Linked DNA regions of Homo sapiens: region 2 is linked to region 1. Evidence: fine-mapped QTL for protein levels in blood plasma. A gene starts in region 1. The other region holds a variant in brackets. All regions are shown on one strand. Distances are from middle to middle.

Region 1 (16,960 bases):
TTGGCGGCCCAGCACTCGGAGCAGCCGGCCAGCCCTGTTGGCCCTGGGCAATGAGGGACTTAGCACCCGGGCCAGTGGCTGCGGAGAGTGTACTGGGTCCCCCAGCAGTGCCAGCCCACCGGCGCTGCGCTCTATTTCTCACCGAGCCTTAGCTGCGTTCCCGCAGGGCAGGGCTCCGGACCTGCAGCCCGCCATGCCTGAGCCTCCCACCCACTCCATGGGCTCCTGTGCGGCCCCAGCCTCCCCGACAAGCACCACCCCCTGCTCCATGGCGCCCAGTCCCATGGACCACCCAAGGGCTGAGGAATGCGAGCGCACGGCAGGGGACTGGCAGGTAGCTCCACCTGCAGCCCCTGTGCGGGATCCACTAGGTGAAGCCAGTTGGGCTTCTGAGTCTAGTGGGGACCTGGAGAGTCTTTATGTCTAGCTCAGGGATTGTAAATACACCAATCAGCACCCTGTGTTTAGCTCAAGGTTTGTGAGTGCACCAATGGACACTGTGTATCTAGCTGCTCTGGTGGGGCCTTGGAGAACCTTTATGTCTAGCTCAGGGATTGTAAACACACCAATCGGCACTCTGTATCTAGCTCAGGGATTGTAAATACACCAATCGGCACTCTGTATGTAGCTCAAGGTTTGTAAACACACCAATCAGCACCCTGTGTTTAGCTCAAGGTTTGTGAATGCACCAATCGACACTGTGTATCTAGCTGCTCTGGTGGGGCCTTGGAGAACCTGTGTGTCCAAACTCTGTATCTAACTAATGTGATGGGGAGGTGGAGAACCTTTGTATCAAGCTCAGGGATTGTAAACGCACCAATCAGTGCCCTGACAAAACAGGCCACTGGGCTCTACCAATCAGCAGGATGTGGGTGGGGCTAGATAAGAGAATAAAAGCAGGCTGCTGGAGCCAGCATTGGCAACCCGCTCGGGTCCCTTTCCGCAGTGTGGGTGCTTTGTTCTTTTGCTCTTTGCAATAAATCTTGCTACTGCTCACTCTGGGTCCACGCTGCTTTTATGAGCTGTAACACTCACCACGAAGATCTGCAGTTTCACTCCTGAGCCCAGCCAGACCACGAGCCCACTGGGAGGAACAAACAACTCCAGATGCGCGGCCTTAAGAGCTGTAACACTCACCGCGAAGGTCTGCAGCTTCACTCCTGAGCCAGCAATACTACCAACCCACCAAAAGGAAGAAACTCCAAACACATCCAAACATCAGAAGGGACAGAATCCAGACGCGCCACCTTAAGAGCTGTAACACTCACCGCTAGGGTCCGCGGCTTCATTCTTGAAGTCAGTGAGACCGAGAACCCACCAATTCCGGACACAATAATATGGGTTTTAGAGGAAGACTTGGGTTCAAACCTTACTTGGTAGCTTTGTAATATTAACAAGTTGTTAAATTTCTTGGTAACATTGTGGTGAAATTACTGTAGAATGCAAGGGGGAAGGGTGCAGTGATTCAAACCTGTAATCCCAGCACTTTGGGAGGACAAGGCAGAACAATCGCCTGAGACCAGGAGTTGGAGACCAGCCTCACAACATAGTAAGACTTCATATCTCACACATACGCGCGCACACACACACACACACACACGCTGGTATGATGCCTCATTTGTAGTCCCACCTATTCAGAAGGCTGAGGCAAAAGGATAACTTAAGCCCAGAAGTTTGAGGTTAGAGTGAACTATGATTGTCATTGCACTCCAGCTTGGACAACAGAGCAAGAACTTGTCTCTAAAAAATAAACAAATACAAAATAAGAATACAATGGTATGATTTATATAAAGAAGTTATCACTGTGTCTGTATCAAGTGTGCCATAAATGAGAGTTACCTTCATCATTATTTATTATTTATTAAATGTTAAGTGTCAGGACCTGGGTTAGGTGCTGATAATTCAAAAGTATATAAGACATAGATATTCCCTCAGGGCACTTAACAGTGCTCAAGCTAATATTCAAGGTAATTGGACCTAAGAAAATATTATATGAGGCTTTCTCATCCACATGCTTCTCAAACTGGCCCACAAACATGAGATAAATAGCACTATTTTAAATGACCCAATGAAGGGGTTTTTAAAACTTAATATAGCAAGCAGTCTCTAAGATCTTTTCCAATGATAAAGTGGAAAGTTCCTGGTTGAGAAATCATGACAAACCCTCTTACCAGCACAGCTGTCAACAATTCCTTTTATGGTGAATGAGTCACTGCTTTAGTTGATACTTTGTTTCATATTAGTGCATTTCTTTGCAGAGGTTACCTCTTTTTCTTGTCTCTCGTCAGGTCTCTGACATTGACAGAGCCTGGACGTTGGAGGAAGCCCCAGGACGTTGGAGGGGTAAAGTAAAAGTCCACAGTTACCGTGAGAGAAAAAAGAGGGAGAAAGCAGTGCAGCCAAACTCGGAAGAAAAGAGAGGAGGAAAAGGACTCGACTTTCACATTGGAACAACCTTCTTTCCAGTGCTAAAGGATCTCTGATCTGGGTAAGACTGGGGCAGGGGTGGGAAAATATTTACCAGGGTTCATCAGTTTTATCTAAATTGACCATTCCCACAACAGGCCGCAGCTGAGCCTGCTGTGGGACACAAGTCCACATACTATCCTGGCCCTATCAAGTGGCTGCAGGTTCCTTAGTGCTCTCTGCTCCTGCTGTGAACTAGTCTCCAGCATAGAGAGATGGGAATGTTTCTAAATTGTTATTTCTTTCTTGACACTATCTTAAATTAACTTTATCATTATTAGTATCTGCTTAATAAAGTTAGGGCTCCATCACATTCATTATTGCCACTTGTAGAGCTCTAGGTAAATGAAGGTAGGCAACTTGGGATCTGCAAAGAGAGGGAACACGTTATTATAATTAGGGAGCTTATACAGTCTTTGTGCAGCTACTTTTCTGAGTCAGTCATTGATTGATTCCCATTTTAAGGTGGTTTACATCATGCTATAAAATGAAACAGAAGTCTTGCCAGAAGTGTCTGTGAGCCATTGTTGTAAGAGAAAATGGGTCCTGACCACAGAAAAATAGTTTTTTTGCCATTGTCCCCTGAAGGGATGGGAAACAGATAATTAGATATAAGCCTTCATCAGAGCAAGTCAGAAGTAATCGACTCCATATTATAAACAAAGCACTCTTTATTATAGAAGAAGGAAAGCTGTAATGCTTACAGTCTATGATTGTTTGTTAAAGAAGTTATAAATGTTATATCATGATCATTTTAAGTTACAGGGATTGAGACATTCAAGGCAAAAACACAAATTAAGATGTTACTACAGGAAGGCTTCTTGCTCATTTTAAATTTACAAAATTATCAAATTATCAAGGCCTGGTTAAACAGGATATGCCTACAATTGTGTATATACTGCTCTCCATGAAGCAGAAGTCAGAAAAAAACAAGCCCTGGTTCATCAGAGAATGTTTCCTGATGCTGGCTTCATTACCTGAAATAACTGAAAGCAATATGCAAACTGATATACATGCAGGTGATAAAGAATCAGTCTTAAAACACAGAGAGGTTAAAATCTGGTAACATAATTGAGTAAAAAATCAGCAGATTTTCTACATGTCAGATTTGAGATACCAAGCTTGAGTGAATAACAGGTGAATGCTGATTCACAGCAAATATTAAGAACAAGTGATGTCCTGTGGTAGCTCAAAGGGCTTCCTGCATAGTGATAGGAAGAAGCCACTGGGTAACCTGAGTCCCACAGTCTGACCAGACCCTGTCCGTAGAGGGGCTTGGAAGAAATCAGGACCAAGGCTGGGTTAGAATGGTATCTATGTTTCAAAGTATGGAGATATGTATGACACAAGATTCCCCAGGTAAAAGTTCCTATTACTGTGTACATGAGCTTAGTGAGCTCAGCTTTGCTCAGTCCAAATATCTAAACGTGAATGTGAAAAGTTTCCAAAGAAAATTTTGTAATTAAGTCAGAAAATGTGACATATCTAGAAAAAAAATCCATTTTCTGAACAGTGAGATACAAGATGATCTGGTGGGAATTCAACCTGATACATCCTTCTGGAGAGGAACTTGGCAATATCCAACAAAATAAAATGCTCTTACCTTTTGACCTGGCAATCTCACTTATAGGATGCTATCCTAAAGTTACTCCTATAGCAATATAAAAATAAACACTCACAAGGTTAGCAGAGGTTTTCATTGCAGCATTGTTTGTAATTGCTAAATATTAGAAACAATCTAAAAGTCTATACATAAAAGAACGGTTGAATAAACTGTGCTATGTCCACATAAATGGAGTAGATGCCTGTCAAAAGAATTGAGAAATCTTCCTACGAACTGATAGGGAAAGACTCCCATATTTCTAAGTGATGTGATCTTTTTGTTGGAAAATGTGAATAAGAAAATATACATGTATATGCTCATTAATGAAAAAAAGTCCAAGAAAGGTAAACTAGAAACTAACAAGATTGGATATCTATGGAGGATAAGTGGGCATGAAGTGGAAAGAATAGAAAGACAGATGGAATGGGAATGCAGTGCCAAGATGAAGGGAAAGTGACACTTCTCTGACTACAGCTTGTTGTAAAGCTCTGACTTTCAGAACTCTGATATTTCGCATACTCAAAAATAAATGCATACTTAAAATCAACCAACAAATGAACCTAACTATATTACAAATAAATAATTTAACTACACCAAAGAGAATGGAGAAGGAAATAGTAGTCTAAGCAACTTTGGAATACAGTGTTTTGACTGTATGTGTAAGACCAAAGACAAGAACTTTTAACTAATAGTGCACTCTAGTTAGCAAATTTATCTTTCAAACACTTATGAGTTAGTAACTTTAAAACAAATTATATGTACTAGAATTGAGCAAATAACTAAATTTATTATGTATAATGACACACTCAGAGAAAAGATTTTAAAAACAAGGGGAAAACATGAATAAGTTTTGTTTTGTTGAATTGGAATTAGAAATATCAGAAGAAACTTAAGCTTATATATAGAAACAGATAGACGAGAAATAAATGTAGATGTGTGTATTCATGTGCTGGTATATAAACATAGATTTCTTAACTTTCCACCTGAGAGGGCCTAGAAGTAATGACTACACCTAGTGTGATAATCTTGTTGTCTATCTACCATTATCCAATGAAAGCAACCAGAGCCCTTGGGAGAAATGGTCGATTCTAAGGCTGAAGCAGAAAAAATATTAGATAAGCCTGGCATATATTGTAATGTCAGAAGGAAAGACGCACTGAAAATATGATGGAAGCACGTCCATAGTACCTGGGCTACAGCTTGAAGGAGCTCTCAGTGAACTAATCTGGGACGAGTTGAGCAATGAGATAAATAGTGATAGTAAAGTGTTACCCATATGATAAATCTACACTGATCTACTATAGATCTACACTGATACAACTAAATGATTAAATAAGTAAATAAAATAAATAGAGGAGAAAGGGCAGTTCTTGCTCACATTAGAACTCTAATAAATGTAGAAGGAATGAAAATAGAAAATTACTTTTAGTCAAACATCACAGTAAGTTATAAGCAAGAATTATCAACAGATGCTAAAAATAGTGACTGAAAAAATTATGGAAGTATGATGAATCTTTATTTGCATAGTCTTCAAACTGTCTCTTCAAATGGTACTTTTTAGTGACAAAATGGTACATAACACTTTGTGGTAGAGAAACCTGGCAGAGAACACCTTAACCAAGTGATCAAAGTTAAGGTCACAGCACCAGAAAAAGTCATGTCAACATCATGAATCCCTTAATACAAGACACTGAAAATGGCAGAACATCACTTTGGTGACATTTGCAAAAAAAAATGTATAACTTCAATCTAATAATAAGGAAACATCAAAAAACCCAAATTGAGGGATATTCTACAAAATCATAGCCAGTCAACTTCTAAAATGTCAAAGACATGAAAGACAAGGAAAGAATAAGGAACTATCAAAGATGCAAGGAAAATACAGAAACATAATGACTAAATGCAATGAGGAATCCTGGATTGGGTCATGGAGCAGAAGGACATTAGTGGGAAACTGGTGAAATGTGAATAAGGAGTGTAAATTAGTTATCACTCTACCAATGTTAAAATCCTTGTTCTATGGTTATGGAAAATTTTAACTTTAGGGGAAATGATATATGGGAACTTTCCATACCCATTGTACATCTTTTCTGTAAGTGTATTTCAAAATAAAGTTATTTTTAAAGAAAGCCAGTGACCCAATTTGTAAGACAGCCTTAAAGAGAAACCAGGCTTTAAAAAACGTATATGAAAAAATGTTCAAGCATAGAAAACAAAAATTTAACCCATATTGTAAAGTTCAGCATAGCTAACTACCTAAAAACTGCTTTCCATTTCATCTTTTTCCTTGCACACAAGGGAACAACACCCTGGACATGGCTCCAGAGATCAACTTGCCGGGCCCAATGAGCCTCATTGATAACACTAAAGGGCAGCTGGTGGTGAATCCAGAAGCTCTGAAGATCCTATCTGCAATTACGCAGCCTGTGGTGGTGGTGGCGATTGTGGGCCTCTATCGCACAGGCAAATCCTACCTGATGAACAAGCTGGCTGGGAAGAAAAACGGTGAGTGACACCAGCAAAGCTCTAAGCCCCTTCTGTCCGTACACACGGCGAACATCCAGCTTAGGGATGTGAGCATAGAAAGAGATGAGAATGAATGTTGAAAGCTAACTTTCAGTCCATTAATGGGCTCTTTACATTGACTTTGGAGGATTACAGTCAACTGACTCTTCCCACTTTACTTTTATTTTATACTAAGGGTATAAATGTGCCTTTCTGGAAGGAACACAATGTTAATAAAGAAAATTAACTTCTATAATAATGACTTATAAAACATTTATTAAAATGTTCATGTAGTGACAGCAAGCTTTCAATGAACTTTAAGAAAAATATGAATGTTTCAGTGTGTATTAAATATCTAATTTTCCTGTTTCCAGGATTGTAATTAAGATTTATGCCAGTTGTATTTTCTTTTATCTCTTTTAACTTCAATTATGTTAACTTTTATCTCAATTTCCAGAAACACCTACTAAGTAATTTCTTTTCCCTTTTATCCTCTCCTTCTACAGGCTTCTCTCTAGGCTCCACAGTGAAGTCTCACACCAAGGGAATCTGGATGTGGTGTGTGCCTCATCCCAAGAAGCCAGAACACACCCTAGTTCTGCTCGACACTGAGGGCCTGGGAGATATAGAGAAGGTAAAAAAAATAAGTATTTTAAAAATTTCACTTAGGTAGATTAAAATCTACATAAACCAGGTCAGATCGATAACCATCTTTGCACAATCACTCCTACTCCTTGATTTAGGGCTCTAGTTAATTATATTAATATATTATTTCTTAAAATTTGTGTGGTATAAGCATTCAGAGTACACAATAAGTTCAATTGATTAATTATGGGTAAACCTATGAAATAATGGCTAATGATGTTTTCAGTTATTTCTCTTTCATATTATAGTAAAATGTTTTGGTGAGGCTGCTGAAGGTGCTTATAAACTTCAGTAGACGTTTTACAAACATGTCTGACTTTTTACAGTGGGATCCCACAAAGGTAGTAAAAATGTTCACATCCACACCAGCACCAGTAGAAAGAGAAGCAAAGTGTAAAATCTAATGATAACATCTTTGCTCATTAAGGATAATATATTACTACTGTTATAAATCTTAGACATAGAAAGCTTTTATTAAAGGAGCTTATTTTAACTACTGTGTAAAAAATATCTTACTATGATGTGCCATGGAAATGGAATAGGGTCATAAACTAAGTTTAGGGTACCAGTTTGAATTTTAGTAGCTGATCAAAATAGCTTCTCCTACCAAGTGCTCATGTGTTTCCTGCTGACATATATTTATATATAACACCTTAAATTATACATCATAAATATTATAAATTTGTTCTACAGGTAGAAAAAAATACTGCATAAGGAAGTGAGTTACCTAAGTTTTCAGAACTAATGAGAGACAGAGTTGGAGTTCAGTCAGTCTTCAGCTATCTGAATTGATTGTACATTCTGCTAGTCATTCTTCTTTGTGGCTTCTACAATGACTTACAGGGTGACAATGAGAATGACTCCTGGATCTTTGCCTTGGCCATCCTCCTGAGCAGCACCTTCGTGTACAATAGCATGGGAACCATCAACCAGCAGGCCATGGACCAACTTCAGTATCCTTTTTTGTGGTCCAGAACAGCAGTAAACCTAGAAAATAACAGCTTCATTTTTTCACCAAGTACAGAGGCAGACAGACAGGTACTGAAGAATTCATAAGTCCTCTCTTTAATAAATCTCATTATGCTGAACATCTCATTCTATCTCAATCTCCATCTGAACTTCAAGTCTTCCCAGTTACATGTCTCGTTAGATACTCAGCCACCCAAGACTCTGTATATCCTCTATCTGACTTAATCTCCTATGCCTGTCCAAACCTTCAATGTCCTCTAGAACTCATGTTCTCACTTCTGCAACTCTCTATATTCTTATCATCTGCTCTAAGTGTTGCCTTCTAAATGATACCTAGCTATACACTATAGATACTATTTCTCCTACAGACCTCTCCAGTGGTCTTATGTGATGACTATTTTTAATCCCATACCTTGCATATCATAAGTGTAAGAGATGAGTTAGGTATCCTCCTTGCTCCATATTAGAGTTCTGGACACTTTCTCATTCCTTTACCATTAAAAAGAGAATCTTCTTTAATATATATGCCCTCAGACTACACCACTATTTTTGTTGCAATTATCTAGCAACGTTCCAATAAATACATCCTTCATTCATTAAAGATTTTAGTTCCTAGTGTCTTTTTAGAGACTAGCAACCAATAGACAATTATTTAACACCCTGGTGTCTCAGTTCCATCACCTTATTGGAACTCTCCACCCTTATTGTCATTCTCCACTCTCACACATTACTTAACCTAGTTCATTATCAATGACCTCACCATTTCCATTAGCTTAGTTTCAAGCATTATACTGAATTAGATTTCATCAAGATCACCCCCATATTCCTATATGTAATGCACAGTTCTCACCTCATTTGATCTTCCAATCTTCCATAAGCCTTTTATTTCTCTAGGAGCATTACATAAATTTGATCCCTTCCACCTTTCTGAAATGCCTGTTTCACTTGGAATTGGTTCCTATTAGAATACCACATTTCCTAATTTTCCACCTTCCTTATTGGTAGACTTTTTCAGATTACTCTATCCTCTTTCTCCTTTTAGCCTCTAAATATTATAACACTTAAGTTCTTGTGCCTCTTTTCTTTTTCTGCTTTCAGTCCCCAGATGATCACATCCAGCTTCAAGGCTTTCAGTAGCACCAATATGTTTATCACCATCAAATCTGTATTCCCAAGCATGAGCAAATTCAAACTTTTGTATCCAGCTTCTGGTGCAACATCTCCATTCAGATGTGTAAGAGACATCTTGAGCCTAAAGTGTACAGAACAAAACTTAATTTTCCTGTCCAAAACAACTCCTTCCCAGTCTTTCTAATCACAATAAATTCCCACATCATTCATAGAAGTGCTCAGATCAAAAACTTAGGAATCATCTTGGATGATTCCATTCCTTATGTTTTGGAAATTATTAATCATCAAACTCCTTCAGCTCCACTATCAAAGTTATTTCTCTAGACTAGCCAATTCTCACTACTTGCTCCATTGCCTCTCATCTTGGTTATCTTTTCAACTACCTAATTGCTTTTTGTATTAGTTTTGTTTGTTTGTTTGTTTTGGCATACACACTTGACTCACAGATGCAATGCCAGCCAGTATGATTTAAAAAACAAAAAACGATACTATATCCTCTCTTCACTTAATACCCACCAATGACTTCCCATTAACTTTCTATTAAATTTCAAACTTCTTACTTTGGTTTACAGAGCTTGCATATCCCAACCTCTATTTATTTTAAGGCTTCTGCCCTACCACACTGGATTTCTTGATATATGTTGTACACACTCAGTAATTTCCTATCTAAGGGCCTTGAAGGGTCTGTGATCTCTGTCTGCAATGTTCCTCCATTGGATTTGTACATGACTGGTTTCTTCAATTCATTCAGATCACTGCTCAACTACAATGTCAGAGATAATTTACCTGGAAAACTACATGAACCAGCACCACATGCAGATACACACAATTATTCTCTGCTTTCCTTATTGGTAGATTTGGGAGACACCAGAGTATTAGATGAATGTCTATTGGTTGCTAGTTTCTAAAAATACATTAGGAGCTAGTTGCCCAGTTCGTTTTCCTTCAAGACAATTGTTATCAATACCTGATAATTTATTTTTGTTTACCTGTTCATTGTTTGTCTCCATCATTAGAATGTAAGCTCTATAGTGGTAGCATTGTCTCATTCATTACAGCGTTCTTAGTCCCTAGGGCAGTGCTTGGTTCATAGTAGGTGCTCAATAAATGTTTGTGAGTGAATGAATTCTGTAAATAAATGTTTGTGAATGAATGAATGAGCTAATAAAAAGAAACCAAATTATTTTAGGTAAGCATTAGGATAAAATGTAGTATAAAGAGTGGCATTTTCTGTAGTTTTCTTAATTTAGCATCTCAGCTATGTGACAGAGCTGACAGATCGAATCAAGGCAAACTCCTCACCTGGTAACAATTCTGTAGACGACTCAGCTGACTTTGTGAGCTTTTTTCCAGCATTTGTGTGGACTCTCAGAGATTTCACCCTGGAACTGGAAGTAGATGGAGAACCCATCACTGCTGATGACTACTTGGAGCTTTCGCTAAAGCTAAGAAAAGGTTACTGGGTCTGATGCTTGGTTGGGTAATAAATAGAGAGCAAATAATATCAAAATAACCATTTCTGTGCAGTGCTAAAAATTATAATTTTTAACTGTATTTTTCTGACTGTTCTGCTAGAGGAAATGGAAACATTGCTTGACTATATCAGTTGGAACCAATTTTAAATTGCATTACCTACCTCTTCTTGGAGACTTTCCTTTCTCTACCCCTTTAATTTTTTATTTCTTCTTCCTAATAAATTTCCTCCTTACATGGGCTTTGTGAAAATTATAAAATTGAAAGATCATATTTGAAGTAATTAATTTGAAGTTTTACTACTTCTAATTTTCATTCCTGTAGGTACTGATAAGAAAAGTAAAAGCTTTAATGATCCTCGGTTGTGCATCCGAAAGTTCTTCCCCAAGAGGAAGTGCTTCGTCTTCGATTGGCCCGCTCCTAAGAAGTACCTTGCTCACCTAGAGCAGCTAAAGGAGGAAGAGCTGAACCCTGATTTCATAGAACAAGTTGCAGAATTTTGTTCCTACATCCTCAGCCATTCCAATGTCAAGACTCTTTCAGGTGGCATTCCAGTCAATGGGCCTCGTGAGTCACTCTCTCTACCCACTTCCTACCTGGACTTTCTCCTTCTGCCCATTGTAGAGGATAAAATGGAAAGCATAAGGGTCACTTCTGACAAATGCATAGTCTATTGATGGCAAGGAAAATACAACATGAAAATCATATTATAAATTTTACATGAAAACTAAAGCTATAGTATCATCTCATATTCCTTGCAAGGAGAATAAAAAAAGAAAAGAACTAGAATTGAATTCTATTATGGTAAACTTCTCCACCAACTTCTCAGCTCCCTCTTTATCAAATAAACATCCAGGATATATATACTGAGCAACAAAGAAAAAAGCAAATACTATATGTAAGTGAGACTTTGCCACTAACTAACTGCAGTACAATTCTCTTGTTCAGCAATTCTAAAATATTTAGGGAATGCCTATAATGTAATGTACCAACCACTGAGTATAATGATGGATAAAAGAAATGTGACTTTTATCCTCATTCCAGCATAATAGGAGCAAAAGATACTTCTGTAAAAAGTAAAAAAAAAAAAAAGTATAATGATAAATAGTGGTTAACACAATGCATAAAAATAATAGGCTGCTATGAAAGAGTAAAGGGAGAGGCAGGGAGATATAATTTAGAGTGTGAGAGAATGCTTGTCTGTGAAAGTCACCTGTAAGATGAGAACTTAAAAATGATTGAGTTGGCTGGGCACGGTGGCTAATGCCTATAATCCCAGAACTTTGGGGGGCTGAGGTGGGTGAATCACTTTGAGCTCAGGAGTTTGAGACCAGCCTGGGCAACATGGGGAAACCCTTCCTCTACTAAAAACACAAAAATTAATCAGGCATGGTGGCTAACACCTGTAATCCCAGCTACTCAGCTGGCTGAGTCTGAAGGATCACTTGAGCCTGGGAGGCAGAGGTTGCAGTGAGCGGAGACTGCACCACCGCACTCCAGCCTGGGAGACAGAGTGAGACCCTGTCTCCAATATATATATATATTAAATAAATGGTTAAGAGCTAACCAAAGCATATAGAGGAATAGCTTTATAGCAAATAATGTAATGTGGAAATGCATAGGGCAGGATAGAACTTTGCAACTTCAAGAAAATAGAACACAGGAGGCTAATGCCTGTAATCCCAGCATTTTGGGAGGCCAAGGTGGGAGAATTCCTTGAGCCCAGGAGTTTAAGTTTAAGACCAGCCTGGGAAAAGTAGCAAGACCTCATCATTATGAAAAAATTAAAAATCAGCCAAGTGCAGTGGTGCTTGCCCAGAGTCCTAGCTACTCAGGAGGCTGAGGCAGGAGGACCCAGCATGAGCACAGGAGTTCAAGGCTATGGTGAGCTATGATCATGCCCTGCACTTCAGCTTGGGTGACAGACCAGAATTCCATCTCAATTTTTTAAACGAAAATAGAAGAAAGACAGGCGATTGGAACAAGAGAAGACTGAATAAGAGTGGTGTCATAATTGGAGGGGTATAAAGGGGTCAGGTCTTGAAAGGACTGGCAGAGGACTTTGAGGAGATTAGAGTTTGTCTAAGCTCTAGAGAAGATCTTGAAGAATTTTTGGCAGTGAGGTAAGGTTATCTAATTTATGTTTATACATATCTTTCTGAATATTTTGTAGATAATTTGTTGGAGTAGTGAAAGGGAGGGAATGAGAGGATGGATGCTATTTGCAGTGGTTGAGCCATAAATGGGCATTGGGTTAGTCTCAGATTATGACAGTGAAAATGGTGAAAATGGACAAGATCCGAACATACTTTGGATATTAAATCTAAAAGGCCTGTTGATAGAGGGAATATGGATTTATGAAGGGAATAAGAAGGAAATGCCAAGCCTGTCTCCAGCGTTTCGAGTTTAGCAATTGCTTGAATGGCTGTGTTATTTAATGAGATAGTAGCATCAAGAGGAGAAATAGTTTTTCAGAGTGGATGAAGTTTTGATATTTAGATTATTTAATATTGAGATTCTTCTGATTTATGCAGTAAGGAATATAAGATAGGCATTAAAAATAAGGTGCAAAACTTATTTTTAATCCAAAGCTTAAAAGAAATGTCAAAGCAGGAAACAAAATACACCAGCCATCCATACAGATGGTACTTAAAACCGCAGAGAGATGAGAAGGTCCAGGATTGAGTCAAAAAGAATCATCTTTTGTTGTGTGATCAACCACTCCAGTTTGCCTAAGATGAGGTTTTCCTGGCATGTGAGACTTTCAGTGCTACACCCAGCAAAGCCCTGGCAAACTCGATGAGTTGATTATCCTATCTGTAGTTCTGATGAGAGAATATCTAAGAAGACATATTTACCTAAGCCAGACACCAGACTAGTGACTAGTGGTCTGCACCACTAAAATTAATAAAAATAAAAAGGCTAAGTTTTCTCATTGACTTTTTTCATAAATTAGTAGTGAAGAGAGAAAGGGAATAGAGGGAGAGGTGAGAGAAAAGAAAGGTAAGAAAACACATTGACCTAGTATCTCAGCCCCAAAATATCCTAACCTATTCATTTCAATATCTTCCTTTTGGGTGAAGGAAATAGGAAAGAGCCACTTCAATTTCCTCTGTGATTAGAGGTTAACAAATTATTCCATTACTATTCTTTATCCAAAACTTATTTAAAAGTATTATTTGTGACACTCACTTGAAAAGCACACAAAATATTCTGTCCCACCAACTGATAGTCACATTTTTTTAAAAATTCCCTTTTGCAGGTCTAGAGAGCCTGGTGCTGACCTACGTCAATGCCATCAGCAGTGGGGATCTACCCTGCATGGAGAACGCAGTCCTGGCCTTGGCCCAGATAGAGAACTCAGCCGCAGTGGAAAAGGCTATTGCCCACTATGAACAGCAGATGGGCCAGAAGGTGCAGCTGCCCACGGAAACCCTCCAGGAGCTGCTGGACCTGCACAGGGACAGTGAGAGAGAGGCCATTGAAGTCTTCATGAAGAACTCTTTCAAGGATGTGGACCAAATGTTCCAGAGGAAATTAGGGGTATATTTGGTGTTCTACGTCATGAGAGGCAGAAAAATATGGGCCCTTCATGGGAAAATAATTCTTTCTAGACCCCAAAATAGTTACACTCAGTTATGTGTACATATTTGAAATAATCATTAAAAGACTAGAATGTGCATAGCCTTAGACCTTTAAAAAAAGACACCTAATTTTTTACTAAAATTTGCTTTTGTTAGTTTTTCCTCTCTGGGTCCCATATTTTAAGAAAGTAAGTAGATGGTACAACTGCATTGTTAAAGACTATTTTAACTTATTTTGTCCTTTTAAATTAAAAAATACATTGTTTTTATGTTCCCTGGTAATTATCAGTGGGGACTAAATTATTTTTAAATAACCCTAATAATTTTTTTAAATGTGAGCCAATGGTAAAATATTCAGAAGGCCAAGAAAGAGAAATTAATTATATAAATTTTATTAGAGAATGTTTTTAATGTCTGCCTCATTCCAAGTGAACAAAGTATTTTTGCATGCAGAATGACCACTTGACAAATGAAAGTCCTTTCCCTAGCTAGGAAGGCAGGATCTTATAAATGATACGTTGCTACAGTCAGAGGTTCTGGTGAAGCTAGATAGCCGATGTCAGCAATTGTCACCCTTCCAACCTAAGGAGGAAAGAGAAAGCTTCATAGTTAAGTTATCTTGAGTGATTTAATGTAGATAAATGTGCTGTTCTATGAGACTTTCCAAATACTGAAAATACCTATGGCACAATCTTCATTACTTTCATTAGCCCTATGCTGAGAAAATACACAAAAATATTCTTATGTTAAAGAATGTACTAAATAATCATGTACTCCTTACTGAGCACTTCTAAAAAGTCCCCGGGCTTAATACTTTACATCACCTCATATAACCCTGCAGAGAAATCTGTGAGATAGGTATTGTTCCTCTGCTGCACAGACAAGGAATCCTCAGTTCACAAAGACTGAGTGTCACAAGCCACAGTGTAGTGTATCCGGGAACTCCAGGCAGGCTGCCTGACTCCAGTGTTTGTGCTCAGAACTATTCCTGAAATGAGAGACTTGGAAAGATAAAAGTTTCGTATGAAATAGTGTATGTGCTTTGAGAATCATTCTCTGAAACAGGAAAACTGGGAGAAAGGAGCTTTAGGAAATCACAAACAGAGAAGTAGATAAATTTCTGCAATAAGCACAACTTAGGGATATTCTAGGATCTAACAGCAATGTGAGGAGCATGGCCCTATTTAGAGGGCCACAATTTCTGAAGGAGAAGCATTTTCCAGTCTCCACATAGTTAACATCCTCCTCATGGCTTTACTGAAACATCTGTGCTGTTTTGTCACTTCACAGGCCCAGTTGGAAGCAAGGCGAGATGACTTTTGTAAGCAGAATTCCAAAGCATCATCAGATTGTTGCATGGCTTTACTTCAGGATATATTTGGCCCTTTAGAAGAAGATGTCAAGCAGGGAACATTTTCTAAACCAGGAGGTTACCGTCTCTTTACTCAGAAGCTGCAGGAGCTGAAGAATAAGTACTACCAGGTGCCAAGGAAGGGGATACAGGTAAACTACACGGTGGGTACCATTTCTTGGGACTCGCTGAGGGGATGCTTTTAAAGCCCACTGGGAAGAAGGTAAATGGCACTGCAACTGGTGCCTAGGGCCTCTGCCTTTCATTTTTCCATTTACTGATTCATTCAATAAGAGAGCCCACCATAACAGGAATTCCTCCTCAGAAGCACAGATGTAGCCCTCAAAAAGAGGTTTATCGAATTGACTCATTTATTTATTCATCTAGTCATTCAACAATTATTTATTTTGACCTAACTGTATACCAGGAACTTGTCAAGTTGCTGGGGATACGGCAGTTAAAAAAAAAAGTTCAAGCTCTGTCAAAGTACACACAGGCAATTAGCAAATGATAGCTTATGAACAAATAATAATAACAGTTAACATTTATGTTGCACTTACTGTGTTCCAGGAACTGGGCTGAGAGCGTTATTCATTTAATACTCAGAGCAATTCTATAAAATATGTATTACTAATATCCGAAATTTGTAATTTTTTTATTTTTTTACTTTTGTGGGTACATATGGTACATAGTAGGTGTATATACTTATGGGGTACATGAGATGTTTTGATATAAGTATGAAATGCACAATAATCACATCATTGAAAATGGGGTATTTGTCGACTCAGGTATTTATCCTTTGTGTTACAAACAATCCAATTACACTTTTTTAGTTATCTTAAAGTGTACAATTAAATTATTATTGACTATAGTCACCCTTTTGTGCCATCAAGTTTTATGCTCTCAAGTATGTTGTGCTATACTTGATTTTATTCATTCTTTCTAGTTGTTTTTACCCATTAACCATCCCCACCTCCCTCCCCCCACCACCCCATTACCCCCTCAGCCTCTGACAACCATCCTTCTACTCTCTATCTTCATGAATTCAATTGTTTTGATTTTCAAATCCCACAAATAAGTGAGAACATGCAATGGTTTTCTTTCTGTGCCTGGCTTATTTCATTTAGCATGATGACCTCAAGTTCCACGTTCTTGCAAATAACAGATCTTATTTTTGTTTATCAGTTCTAATAGTTTTTTTGGTGTGGAATCTTTAGATTTTTCCAAATATAA
Region 2 (13,395 bases), 120 kb after region 1:
ATCCAAATGCATCACCTTGTGGTTCGTTTTTCTGTTTTCTCTCTGTTCTTCCTGATCACAAACTTAGTATGGCAGAGCGAACATAAAGCCCAGGGGAAGGATTTTGCTTGCTCACTTGTACTTTCTTGTTTCTGTCTGTCTGACTTGAAATGGCCACTGCCTACATGTGGTCACTAAAAGTTTATTTGCAGGGTGTCACATTCAGTCCCGTTTTAGTGTATCCTTCCACTTACGGCTGTCATATGCTAGGCATCATAAAAATGCCTTATCTATATCTCTTGCTTAATACCATATGAAGCGAGAACTTTATCCCTATTACTTAGGAGAGGAAACAGAGGTTCAGAAAATATTAAATAACTTTTATAGTGTCACACAGCTAGTAAATATCTGACCCATCTTCATCACTTAGTGGAATCCATAGTAATATTTTTTCTATCCCATCTAGTATGACTTTGGCTCTAAGAGAACTTTTATGAGCAGAAGGACTCCCTAACCCTCACACCTGTAGGGCAGTCTACCACTCCTGCCTGTTTTCTGTGCCCTACTCACAGTTTGTGTTGAGTTGGGAGCTATGTGCAGAAATTCTATATGGTAAGTCTGGCACTCGGATTTCCTTGCCTATCTTCTGCTACCCCTGCCAACAGGGAGTAGAGACTTAGATCAAATTTCCTGATCTAAGATTCATATACCTAATCAGATTTTGAGAGTAACTTATCTCTGTATTATGTGTATATAATAATAATATGTGTGTAGGTAGGTGTGTTAAAAAGTCTATAATGCATAGGGAAGATTTGAAGTCAAATATATTGTTAAGATTTCCCACAAAGGTTTTGTATAATTAATAGGGGGAAAAAAGCAAGACCTTCATCAATAGAGCAGAAGGCATACGCTGAAACTCTTTTGGCTATAGAAAACCCAGGAGAAATAATCACACAGCCCAAATGCCCAGAAAAACTATAATTAAAATCAAGGGTAGAGAAAATTTCAAGAAAAAAACTAAGTACTAAATAAATCAATGCATGTGGAAACTAGATAGCTTACAGAGATTTACTTAATGCTACACTTATTTAGCCTCCATTTGTCCCTTTTTAGGAACAGGCCCGAGTACTAAAGGAGAGATGCCAAGGTGAAAGTACCCAACTTCAAAATGAGATACAAAAGCTACAGAAGACCCTGAAAAAAAAAACCAAGAGATATATGTCGCATAAGCTAAAGATCTAAACAACAGAGCTTTTCTGTCATCCTAACCCAAGGCATAACTGAAACAATTTTAGAATTTGGAACAAGTGTCACTATATTTGATAATAATTAGATCTTGCATCATAACACTAAAAGTTTACAAGAACATGCAGTTCAATGATCAAAATCATGTTTTTTCCTTAAAAAGATTGTAAATTGTGCAACAAAGATGCATTTACCTCTGTACCAACAGAGGAGGGATCATGAGTTGCCACCACTCAGAAGTTTATTCTTCCAGACGACCAGTGGATACTGAGGAAAGTCTTAGGTAAAAATCTTGGGACATATTTGGGCACTGGTTTGGCCAAGTGTACAATGGGTCCCAATATCAGAAACAACCATCCTAGCTTCCTAGGGAAGACAGTGTACAGTTCTCCATTATATCAAGGCTACAAGGTCTATGAGCAATAATGTGATTTCTGGACATTGCCCATGGATAATTCTCACTGATGGATCTCAAGCTAAAGCAAACCATCTTATACAGAGATCTAGAATCTTATATTTTCCATAGGAAGGTAAAGAAATCATTAGCAAGAGTAGGAATTGAATCATAAACAAATTGGCTAATGAAGAAATCTTTTCTTTCTTGTTCAATTCATCTAGATTATAACCTTAATGTGACACCTGAGACCTTTAGACAGTTGACCCTGAATTAAATAGTCACATGGTAACAATTATGCACTGTGTAATTTTAGTAATGTATAACATGCAATGATGCACTTTAACTGAAGATAGAGACTATGTTAGAAAATTGAACTAATTTAATTATTTGATTGTTTTAATCCTAAAGCATAAGTTAGTCTTTTCCTGATTCTTAAAGGTCATACTTGAAATCCTGCCAATTTTCCCCAAAGGGAATATGGAATTTTTTTGACTTTCTTTTGAGCAATAAAATAATTGTCTTGCCATTACTTAGTATATGTAGACTTCATCCCAATTGTCAAACATCCTAGGTAAGTGGTTGACATTTCTTACAGCAATTACAGATTATTTTTGAACTAGAAATAAACTAAACTAGAAATAAAATAAGTTTCACTAGTTTTTTTATTTCCATTTTTTTTTTTTTAGTTTTTCACCAAATAATAAGGTTTGAGTCTTTATAGCAGTGGTTGGCTAACTTTTCTGTAAAATACCAGATAGTGATTATTTATGGCTTTGCAGGTCAACTGTCTCAACTACTAAACTCTGCATACAGTACAAATGCAGCCATAGACAATACATAAGTAAATGGGTGGGGCTATGTGCCAATAACACTTAATTTTCAAAACCAGGTGGCACACACAAGCTATAGTTTGCAGACCTTTGTTTATAGAAACATTGGTCAAAGTTTCATTTTATATCTGCCTTATTTTACTTACATTTATAAGAATCATAAGGATTAGATTGTATATGTTAGAATCTTGAAATAATTATGTAGTGTTTCAAAATATTACACGATGAATCCCAAGAGGACCCACAGACCCTCTGAAGGAGGCAGACTGCTCCTGCAGGACCCAGGAAACACTCCAAATATTCTGACTGCCCCAACTGCAGAAGTGGGAAAGGGAGACCCTCCTCTCTGGAACACACACCCCCACTGGAGAAGCTGAAGGTTTGTGTGCAGGAGGAGTTTCCGACTTTACCTGAAGCTGAGTCAAGTTAGAGAGCCGAGCAAAATACAGGGGTAGAGGAAGCAGTTGGAAGGCCCTGGGAGCTCACTGTGTCCCCAGGCAGGCCATTCCTGCCTGGCACCACAGGGATCTATCGGGAGGTCAGCCAGAGGAGCAACAGGTAAAACTCCACAGAAAGAAGAAATTCTCCAACCAAACTTTGTAACAATTTGAATGGGGCGAGAAGCCTCCTGCCAGAACTCGGGGAGGGCACAAATCCAGCATGCAAACTTCACAGGCTGGTGAAGAACTAAAGTCCTTTTCTTTTTGGCTGAGCAGAAAGCCTCAGCCAAATTTTAAGCCCGCCCCTCTTGCCCTCTGCCTGGAAACAGACTCAGAGCTGTTGGCAGGGAGAAGGGCACAGTGGGAGTGAGACCGGCCTTCCAGTTTGCATCGGAGCTGGGTGAGGCCTGTGACTGCCAGCTTCTCCCACTCCCCTGACAACCTGCATGACTCAGGAGAGGCAGCCATAATCCTCCTAGGTACACAACTCCAGTGACCTGGGAATCTCACCCCCATCCCCCACAGCAGCCATAGCAAGATCCAGCCATGGAGAGTCTGAGCTCAGACACTCCTAGCCCCGCCCTGACCTGATGGTCCTTCTCCATCCACCCTGGTAGCTGAAGACAAAGGTCATTTAATCTTGGGAGTTCTAGGACCCTGCCCACCACCAGTCCCTCTCCCAC[T/C]GATACTTTCTGGAAAGTGCCACCTCCTTTCAGGAGGCCAACCAGCACAAAAATAGAGCATTAAACCACCAAAACCAAGGACCCTCATGAAGTCCATTTCACCCTCCACCACCTCCACTGGAACAGGCACTGGTATTGTAGGAGGACAAGCCACCAACAAAACCCCTCAGACACTGAGTTAAAGAAGGAAGGGCTTTATTCAGCCAGGAGCTTTGGTAAGACTCACGTCTCCAACAACCGAGCTCCCTGAGTGAGCAATTCCTGTCCCTTTTAAGGGCTCACAACTCTAAGGGGGTCCACGTGAGAGGGTCGTGATTGATTGAGCAAGCAGGGGGTACATGACTGCGGGCTACATGCACTGGTAATTAGAACGGAACGGAACAGAACAGGACAGGGATTTTCACAGTGCTTTTCTATACAATGTCTGTAATCTGTAGATAGCATAACCAATTAGGTCAGGGGTCAATCTTTAATTACCAGGCCCAGGGTGTGGCGCTGAACTGTCTGCTTGTGGATTTCATTTCTGCCTTTTAATTTTTACTTCTTCTTTCTTTGGAGGCAGAAATTGGGCATAAGACAATATGAGGGGTGTTTTCTTCCCTTAGTATCCATGGCTCAGAGACCCATAGATGGTCCACATCACAGGACTCTGTACAGAAAACCCCCAATACCAGCCCAGAGCTGGGCAGACACACTGGCTGGCTAGACTCAGAAGAGAGACGACAATCACTGCAGTTTGGCTCACAGGAAGCCATACCCATAGGAAAAGGGGGAGAGTACTACATCAGGGGAACACCCCATGGGACAAAAGAATCTGAACAACAGCCTTCAGCCTTAGACCTTCTCTCTGACAGAGCCTACCCAAATGAGAAGGAACCAGAAAACCAACTCTGGTTATATGACAAAACAAGGCCCTTCAACACCCCCCAAAAATCATCCTGGTTCACCAGCAATGGATCCAAACCAAGAAGAAATCCCGATTTATCTGAAAAAGAATTCAGGAGGTTAGTTACTAAGCTAATCAGGGAAGGACCAGAGAAAGGTGAAGCCCAATGCAAGGAAATCCAAAAAAATGATACAAGAAGTGAAGGGATAAATATTCAATGAAATAGACAGCTTAAAGGAAAACAATCCACAATTCAGGAAACTTTGGACACGCTTTTAGAAATGCAAAATGCTTTGGAAAGTCTCAGCAACAGAATTGAACAAGTACAAGAAAGAAATTCAGAGCTCAAAGACAAGGTCTTTGAATTAACCCAATCCAACAAAGACAAAGAAAAAAGAATACGAAAATATGAACAAATCCTCCAAGAAGTCTGGGATCATGTTAAATGACCAAACCTAAGAATAATGGGTGTTCCTGGGGAAGAAGAGAATTCTAAAAGCTTGGAAAACATATTTGGGGGAATAATTGAGGAAAACTTCCCCAACCTAGCTAGAGACCTACACATGCAAATATAAGAAGCACAAAGAATACCTGGGAAATTCATCACAAAAAGATCTTCACCTAGGCACATTGTCATCAGGTTATCCAAAGTTAAGATGAAGGAAAAAAATCTTAAGAGCTGTGAGACAGAAGCACCAGGTAACCTATAAAGGAAAACATATCAGACTAACCTAGCAGATTTCTCAGCAGAAACCGTACAAGCCAGAAGGCAATGCGGCCCTATCTTTAGCCTCTTCAAACAAAACAATTATCAGCCAAGAATTCTGTTTCCAGCAAAACTAAGCATCAAACGTAAAGGAAAGAAACAGTCATTTTCAGACAAAATTGCTGAGAGAATTCACCATTACCAAGCCACCACTATAAGAACTGCTAAAAGGAGGTCTAAATCTTGAAACGAAGCCTGGAAACACACCAAAACAGAACCTCTTTAAAGCATAAATCATACAGGACCTACAAAACAAAAATACAAGGTAAAAAGCAAAAGCAAAAAACAAAAACAAAAAAATAACAAAGTACACAGGCAACAAAGAGTACGATGAACGCAAGGATTACCTCACATTTCAATACTAACATTGAATGTAAATCACCTAAATGCTCCACTTAAAAGATACAGAACTGCAGAACAGATAAGAACTCACCAATCAACTATCCACTGTCTTCAGGAGACTCACCGAACACATAAGGACTCACATAAAGTTAAAGTAAATGGGTGGAAAAAGCCATTTCATGCAAATGGACACCAAAAGCGACCAGAGGTAACTATTCTTATATCAGACAAAACAAACTTTAAAGCAACAGTGGTTAAAAGAGACAAAGAGGGACATTATATAATGATAAAAGGCTTGTCCAACAGGAAAATATCACAATCCTAAACATATATGCACCTAACACTGGAGCTCCCAAATTTATAAAATAATTACTAATAGACCTAAGAAATGAGATAGACTGCAATACAATAATGCTGGAGGACTTCAATACTCCACTGACAACACTAGACAGGTCATTAAGACAGAAAATCAACAAATAAACAATGGATTAACTATACTTTGGAACAAATGGACTTAACAGATACATACAGAAAATTTCTTCCAACAACCTCACAATACACATTCTATTCAACCGTGCATGGAACTTTCTCCAAAATGGACCACATGATAGGCCATAAAATGAGCCTCAATAAATTTAAGAAAATTAAAATTATATCAAACACACTATCGGACCACAGTGGAATAAAACTGGAAATCAACTCCAAAGGGAATCTTCAAAACCATGCAAATACATGGAAATTAAATAACCTGCTCCTGAATGAGCATTGGGTCAAAAACAAAATCAAGATGGAAATTAAAAAATTCTTCAAACTGAATGACAATAATGACACAACCTATCAAAACCTCTGGGATACAGCAAAGGCAGTGCTAAGAAGAAAGTTCATAGCCCTAAACACCTACATCAAAAAGTCTGAAAGTGCACAAACAGACAATCTAAGTTCACACCTCAAAGAACTAGAGAAACAAGAACAAACCAAACCCAAACCCAAACCCACCAGAAGAAAGGAAATAACCAAGATCAGAGAAATAAATGAAATTGAAAAAAACTACAAAAGATAAATGAAACAAAAAGCTGGTTCTTTGAAAAGAAAAATAACATTGATAGACCATTAGCAAGATTAACTAAGAAAAGAAGAGAGAAAATCCAAATAACTTCACTAACAAACAAAACAGGAGGTATTAAACCTGACACCACTGAAATACAAAAGATCATTCAAGGCTACTATAAACTCAGCAAAATTAAGTTACTTCCTCCTTAGTTTGGTAGCATCAATGTCCTGACCCAAATCCATATCATCTGACTTCTGATTTAGTGCTTTTCTTTAATATCTCCAGGAATCAAATAAAGCTCACTGTCCAAGGAGGCATGTTGCTTTCACCAGTGCTCCTCAATCCTGATATGCATTAAAATCACCTTATTAAGTATAAAGATTCCCTGGCCCCTACCCTTCCTCTGACTTTCTGACATAGTAGGTCTGAGAGTGTCATTGAGTGCAACAATGACAAGAAAATGGCAATGCAATGCTATGATTTTCTTGCATTGTTCCTGGATCTACAACCAGGAGTACTGGCCATTGGGAGCCTGAATAAGTTGGCTCTGGAATCCTTTTGGAATGACCCTGTAGCCTTCTCACTATCTGTATGACAAGGTGCTTCAGGTTTCCCTTATTCATTTCCTGTTTGCTGAAGCTACCATAGCTTAAGGCCTAAAATTGCTGGCCTGTATGGTATGTGTCTCTGTGCCAAAAATATTTTCAGTTTACAGAAGTATTTCTTCTCTTGTTTAAGTAATAAGTTGCTAGTTTTCCTTCTCTGAGTTTAGTGAAAGGAAATACAAGCTCCTCTGATCCACAGGGAAGGAGCACATCAAACACTGAGATCCTGACAAAAAAAAAGAAAAAAAAAGGCAGAAATCCCTCAGTGAAACCTGTCCAATCAGTCTTACAAATGACCAGGCTCAAGAATCAACAAAGCCAAATAAAGTGTTTCTACCAAAAAAATTTTAAAAAACATCAAGATTTAAGAAATACTTTTAATCTTTGATGCATTAAATAGTAAAACTAAAAATCAACATTTCAACATTCTGACAACTCTATGTGTATAACTTCTGCAACTCAAATGGACTAATTTCTGAAAAAAGCACAAACAAGCAACTAAAACTCACCCAAGTTAAAATAGATAACCTGAACTGTCATATAATTTCTAAAGAAACTGAAATGGAGTAAAAAAGTTAAGAATCTGAAAAACAAATCTCCACATCCAGATAGTTCCTCTTGACTGGCAAACCTTACTAAGCATTTTTTAAATAATTCCAATTCTTAATAATTTCTTTCAGAAAATATAAAAGGGAACATTTCCCAATTCATTCTATGAGCACAGCATCATCCTGATAACAAAATTAAACAAATACAGTACAAAAGTAAACTACAGACCATTATCCCTCATAAACATAGATGCAAAAATCCTCTACAAACTATTAACAAATCAAATCCAGCAATATAGAAAAATAATGCACACCAATCAAGTGGGATTCATCCTGTGGATGTAAAGCAGTTCAAAAATCAACTAGTGTAATTCACCACACTAAAAGTCTAAAGAAGGAAAAAAAATCACATGGTTATATAAATAGATAAAGAAAAAGCTTGATAAAATATGACAGTCATTCATATGAAAACTCAGCAAATAGGAGTGGAAATGAACTTCTTCAAACCGATCAAGGGCATCTGCAAAAACTCTACAGCTAACATCATACTTGATGAAACACTGAATCTTTTGCCCCTCAGATCTAGGAACAACACAAGAATGTTCACTCTCACCACTCCCATTCAACATTACATCGGAATTGTTAGTACAATGGAAGTGTTAGTGCAATTTGGGAAGAAAAGGATATAAAAGGCATATAGATCAGAAAGCATCAAATAAAACTGTCCTTATTTGCAGGCAACATTATTGCCTATGTAGAAAATCCCAGGTAATCTACAATAAAACTCTTAGAACTAATAAATGAATTTAATACAGTCAAAAGATACAAGGTCAGCACACAAAAATCAACCTTCAACAGTTTCTATATATAAGCAAAGAAAAACTGGAAACCAAAATTTTAAAAATGATACTATTTACAATAGCTACAAAAAAAGGAAACAAATAGATATAAATCTAACAAAGCATGAACAGGATCTGTATATTAAAACTACTCTAAGACCAAGAGACTGTCAGGATGGATCACAATTCCTGTATCTCCTTAGATTCCATCACCCTGTAGTTCTTATAATGCTCCTTCTACTCACAATAGAAAAGAAGGCTCAAGACCTTCTTTCTAGAGTTAGCCTTAACAAAGACTAACTTTAATGTTCTCCCATGTTTTATTATATAGATTTCCCCCCCAGTCTAACTCTAAAACAGTCCTTTTAGGAAGTTAGGTAAGACTACATAGAAAACAGCAATTGCTTAGGCTAGAGGAATTTATTCATTCAAGATAGTTGTTATCTACAAGATTCTCCGCCAAGGACTAGGAAACATGGTTGTGTTTCTCTCTTAAAGAGCTTAAAGTCTATGCTGAATACATATATTAAACAAATGAAAGAAAATTAAATACCCAGGAAATTGAGGGGAGAGCACATCTATGATTTAGGAAGGAGTTAATCTAATCCCCCTATAACAAGATAGTTCACACAGCTCTTTAGTATGTCTTAGCCCTATTTCACCTTATCAGTTAATTAGAGAAAAGAAAGAAAGAGAGAAAGAAAAGAAGGAAAGGAAGGAAGGAAGGAAGGAACGAAGGAAGGAAGGGAGGGAAGGAGGGAGGGAGGGAGGAAAGAAAGAGAGAAATCCAGTAGGGCATGGTAGTGTGTGCCTATAGTCCCAGGTACTCGAGAAGCTAAGGAGGGAGGATTGCATAAGGCCAGGAAGTCGAGACCAGCCTGGGCAACAGAGCAAGACCTGCCTCTTAAGAAAAACAAAAACAAAACAAAAAACAAAACAAAAAAAATCCTTGGAAATCTCTAAGGAAGCTGAGCATGGTGGCATACGCATGTAATCTCAGCACTTTGGAAGGCTGAGGCAGGAGGACTGCTTGAGCCCAGGAGTTCGAGGCTGCCATGAGCTATGATCCCACCACTGCACTCCAGCCTAGGCAACACAGCAATGAGACCCTGTCTCTAAAAAATAAAAAACAAATTTAAACAAATCAAAATTGGGAGAAGGGAGACGGGAAAAGAAAGAACCTATTACTTTGACCCAAACACAACTTCAAAATAATAATAATAATAATAATAATAATAGATATGAGCCCTGGCTATGTTGCCCAGGCTGATCTTGAACTCCTGGGCTCAAGCGATCCTCCCACTTCGGCTTCCCAAAGTGCTGGGATTACAGTTATGAGCCACTGCACCTGGCCCCAAACACAACTTTAATAGAGCAACATGCAGTCAGCATCCCTACCCAGTTGAATGAACTGGGTAAGTGAAAGAAATTAAGAAAGCAATGAGCACCATCTAGTGGCCAGAATTTTTATTTTTCCTCACAATATTTAATCACTACCTTACATTACTGATGAGTTTGTTCAAACTTACTGCCTGTCTCCCCTCCCTACTAGAAAATAAGGTCCAGTGGGCAGGGTCTTTGTCTTTTTTGTTCCTCACAGCATCAGTAGAGTCTAGAAAGGTTGCCAGGCACATATACATATAATAAATAATTTTTTTAAATGAATGAACATCTTATATACACTTTATTATCCCAACTCCATTCCTAACACTTCTCCCTGAAAGTTTACAATTATTAAACATCATATTGATTATTTCACGAGTTTGATAATTATTTATATTCTTGTGCTATTTATAATAGAATCTTCTCCCTCTACTCCCCACAAAGGATTTCATCAGTATCCCTTCTTTAAAGACCTAGAAAAGCTGGTGTTGATTAATATTCCTAACATTGCTCTAGGGATCTAACTGGCATGAAGCATCTAGCACTATCTTTGGGCCAGCATTGTGAACACTGCTGCAATAAACATGGGGGTGAAGCCATCCCTTTGATATACTAATTTCCTTTCTTGTGGGTATTTACCCACTAGTGGGATTCCTGGATGATATGGTAGCTCTGTTTTTAGTTTTTGTTGTTTTGTGTTTTTTTTTTTTTTTTTTTTTTCAGGAACCTCCAAGCTATTCTCCATAGTAGTTGTACTAATTTACATTCCTACCAACAGTGTACGAGGTTTCCCTTTTCTCCACACCCTTGCCAGCATTTGTTATTGCCTGTCTTTTGAATGTAAGCCATTTTAACTGGGGTGAGATGATATCTCATTGTAGTTTTTATGTGTAATTTGCATATTTTGAACCAACCTTGCATCCCAGAAATAAAGCCTATTGGTTATGGTGGATTAGCTTTTTGGTGTTGCTGGATTTGATTTGTTAGTATTTTGCTAAGGACTTTTGTGTCTGTAGTCATCAGGGATGTTGGCCTTTAGTTTTCTCTTTTTTTTTTTTTTGAGACGGAGTCCTGCTCTGTCGCCCAGGCTGGAGTGCAGTGCCTGGATCTCGGCTGACTGAAAGCTCCGCCTTCCGGGTTCAGGCCATTCTCCTACCTCAGCCTCCGAGTAGCTGGGACTACAGGCGCCCGCCACCACGCCCGACTAATTTTTTTGTATTTTTAGTGGACACGGGGTTTCACCGTGTTAGCCAGGATGGTCTCGATCTCCTGACTTCGTGATCCGCCCGCCTCGGCCTCCCAGAGTGCTGGGATTACAGGCGTGGGTCACTGCGCCCGGCTGAAGTTTTGTTTTTTTGCTGTGTCTCTGCCAGGTTTCGATATCAGACTGATGCTGACCCTCAGGGGTTAGTAAGGAGTCCCTCCTCCTTGATTTTTCTGGAATAATTTCAGTAGGATTATTGACAGCTCTTCTTTATACATCTGGTAGAATTCGGCTGTAAATCCATCTGGTCCACAGGTTTTTCTTGTTGGTAGGTTTTTTAGTACTGATTCAACTTGGATCCCATTATTGGTGTGTTCAGGATTTCAATTTCTTCCTAGTTCATTCTTGAGAGGTTATATGTTTCTGGGAATTTACCCATTTCTTCCAGGTTTTCTAGTTTGTGTGCACAGAGGAGTTCATAATAGTGTCTGGGTATTTTTTTTTTCTGTAAGGTCAATGGTAATGTCATATTTGTCATTTCTGATTGTGTTTATTTGGATCTTCTTTTTCCTTATTAATCTAATAGTCTTTAAATCTTATTCTTCCAAAGAAACAACTTTTGGTTTCATTGATCTTTTGTATGGATTTTGCATCTCGATTTCATTCAGTCTGCTCAATTTTGGTCATTTCTTTTCTTTTGCTAGTTCTGGAGTTGATTTGCTCGTTTTTCTAGTTCCTGTAGGTGTGATGTTAGGTTGTTCATTTGAGATCTTTCTAACTTCTTGATGTAGGCGTTTAGCACTATAAACTTTCTTCTTACCCCTGCTTTAACTGTGTTCCAGAGATTCTGATATGTTGTATCTTTGTTTTCATTAGTTTGAAAGACTTTTTTGATTTCTGCCTTAATTTCATTGTTTACCCAAACATCACCCAGGAGCAGGCTGTTTAATTTCCATGTAATTTATAGTTTTAAGAGATCTTCTGGGTATTGATTTCTATTTTTATTGTGCTGTAGTACTAGAGTGTGGCTGGTATTATTCCAGTTTTTTGCAATTTGTTGAGAATTGCGTTATGGTTGAGCATGTGGTCAACCTTAGAGTATGTGCCATGTGCAGATGAGAGGAATGTATATTCTGCGCCAAACTGATTTGTAAAGTCAAAATTCATTTTCCCTTTTTAAAAATTGTTCAAAGACTGTAAAGACTATCTGACTGATTCAAATCACAAATTCTAACAGTTAAGTTGCTATCAATACAGCCAAACGTGTATGTGAATAGACAGACAACAGATAAATGAGACACACATTTACCCTGATCAGCCTTTCCATGGGTTAAGTGTACAATTTCTATTATGGTTTTTGAAATAGTTGAACTAATGTTTGTATAGCTATTATTATCTGGCTAGGAAACATTAGTTTAATATTCTAATACACACACATAAATATTGCATTTAAAATACTTACGTGAGACTGAAAACTGAACATAATTCTCTAGAGCAGGATTATAAGGTGGAAAAGTCTTTAGGAACTTACAACCCCACACTTAGTTGTCTTGTTTCCTAGAGCAGTCCTTCTTAGTACTACTGTAGGGTTATAAGATAAAGGAAAATGTAGTCCTGCCTCCTTGACTCTTAGTACCTAGAAGTCACAGATACCTCTTCAGCAGCATTTTCAGATAATGAGGCATTGCTACTATCTTCCAACTTGTTTTCCTCCCTCACTCCTCTATTGTCACCTGGAAGACCCATGTAAAAGGAAAGCGGAATGCCTTTGGGAATCAACTAGAATAGTAGTCAGTAAACAATTACAGGCAAACTGTGGCTACACTTCAGGAAACAAATGTAAAAGAGTTAAACAAAATTGAAGTTGATTTATTTATCTGCAAATATAGATAATTGGTCCAGAGCTGGAGTGGTGGCTCCATGATGTCAGGGCTCAGGATCCTTGTCTCTCATTCTATTGCACTAGATCATCTTGAACTTGTAGATTCCATATGGTGGTCCAAGAGGGCTGCAGGCATCTTAGACCTGTACCATGCACCCAAACTGGCAGGTAAACTGCAAACCAAGGGAACAAGAAGGGCCTACCACTCCTTTAAGACATTTCATGGCAGCTGCACGTACAGCTCCCATTTATATGCCATTGGCCACAATTTGGTCATACAGCCAACCTAGCCATAACAGAGGGTGGAAATGCATT

Which allele goes with the higher level. Positions count from the first base shown, and alleles are read on the strand shown. Strength reflects both the effect of a copy and how common the allele is.
In carriers of allele C in region 2, the plasma level of the protein whose gene starts at base 2,237 in region 1 tends to be higher than with T alone (weak association).

Evidence for each region. A credible set is the group of variants that fine-mapping cannot tell apart. PIP is the chance, under the fine-mapping model, that this variant and not a neighbour inherited with it causes the effect. Protein levels are from antibody-based Olink assays in UK Biobank. Linkage for the fine-mapping came from a reference panel and not from the study's own genotypes, which makes the PIPs less certain.
Region 2: its variant is the best candidate, but not a certain one, in a credible set for the plasma level of the GBP2 protein (UK Biobank, PIP 0.57).

Annotation. Positions count from the first base shown.
Region 1 is chr1:89,111,391-89,128,350 of GRCh38, reverse strand. It overlaps GBP2 (guanylate binding protein 2), which reads left to right and starts at 2,237. Exons shown (of 11, transcript NM_004120.5): 1 at 2,237-2,488; 2 at 6,368-6,574; 3 at 7,081-7,208; 4 at 8,063-8,172; 5 at 10,578-10,774; 6 at 11,117-11,359; 7 at 14,055-14,335; 8 at 15,667-15,879. The coding sequence starts at 6,385. LOC112268267 (a long non-coding RNA gene) reads right to left here and starts at 10,573. Exons shown (of 2, transcript XR_007066213.1): 1 at 10,309-10,573; 2 at 3,120-9,440. RefSeq lists a silencer at 6,391-6,685.
Region 2 is chr1:88,995,550-89,008,944 of GRCh38, reverse strand. GBP3 (guanylate binding protein 3) reads left to right here. Exons shown (of 11, transcript NM_018284.3): 11 at 1,093-2,265. The coding sequence ends at 1,221. It overlaps LOC124904215 (a long non-coding RNA gene), which reads right to left. Exons shown (of 2, transcript XR_007066212.1): 2 at 13,047-13,223. Among named protein-coding and RNA genes, the nearest start is that of RBMXL1, 9.6 kb to the right of the region's middle. The variant T/C (reference allele first, on the strand shown) is at 3,575.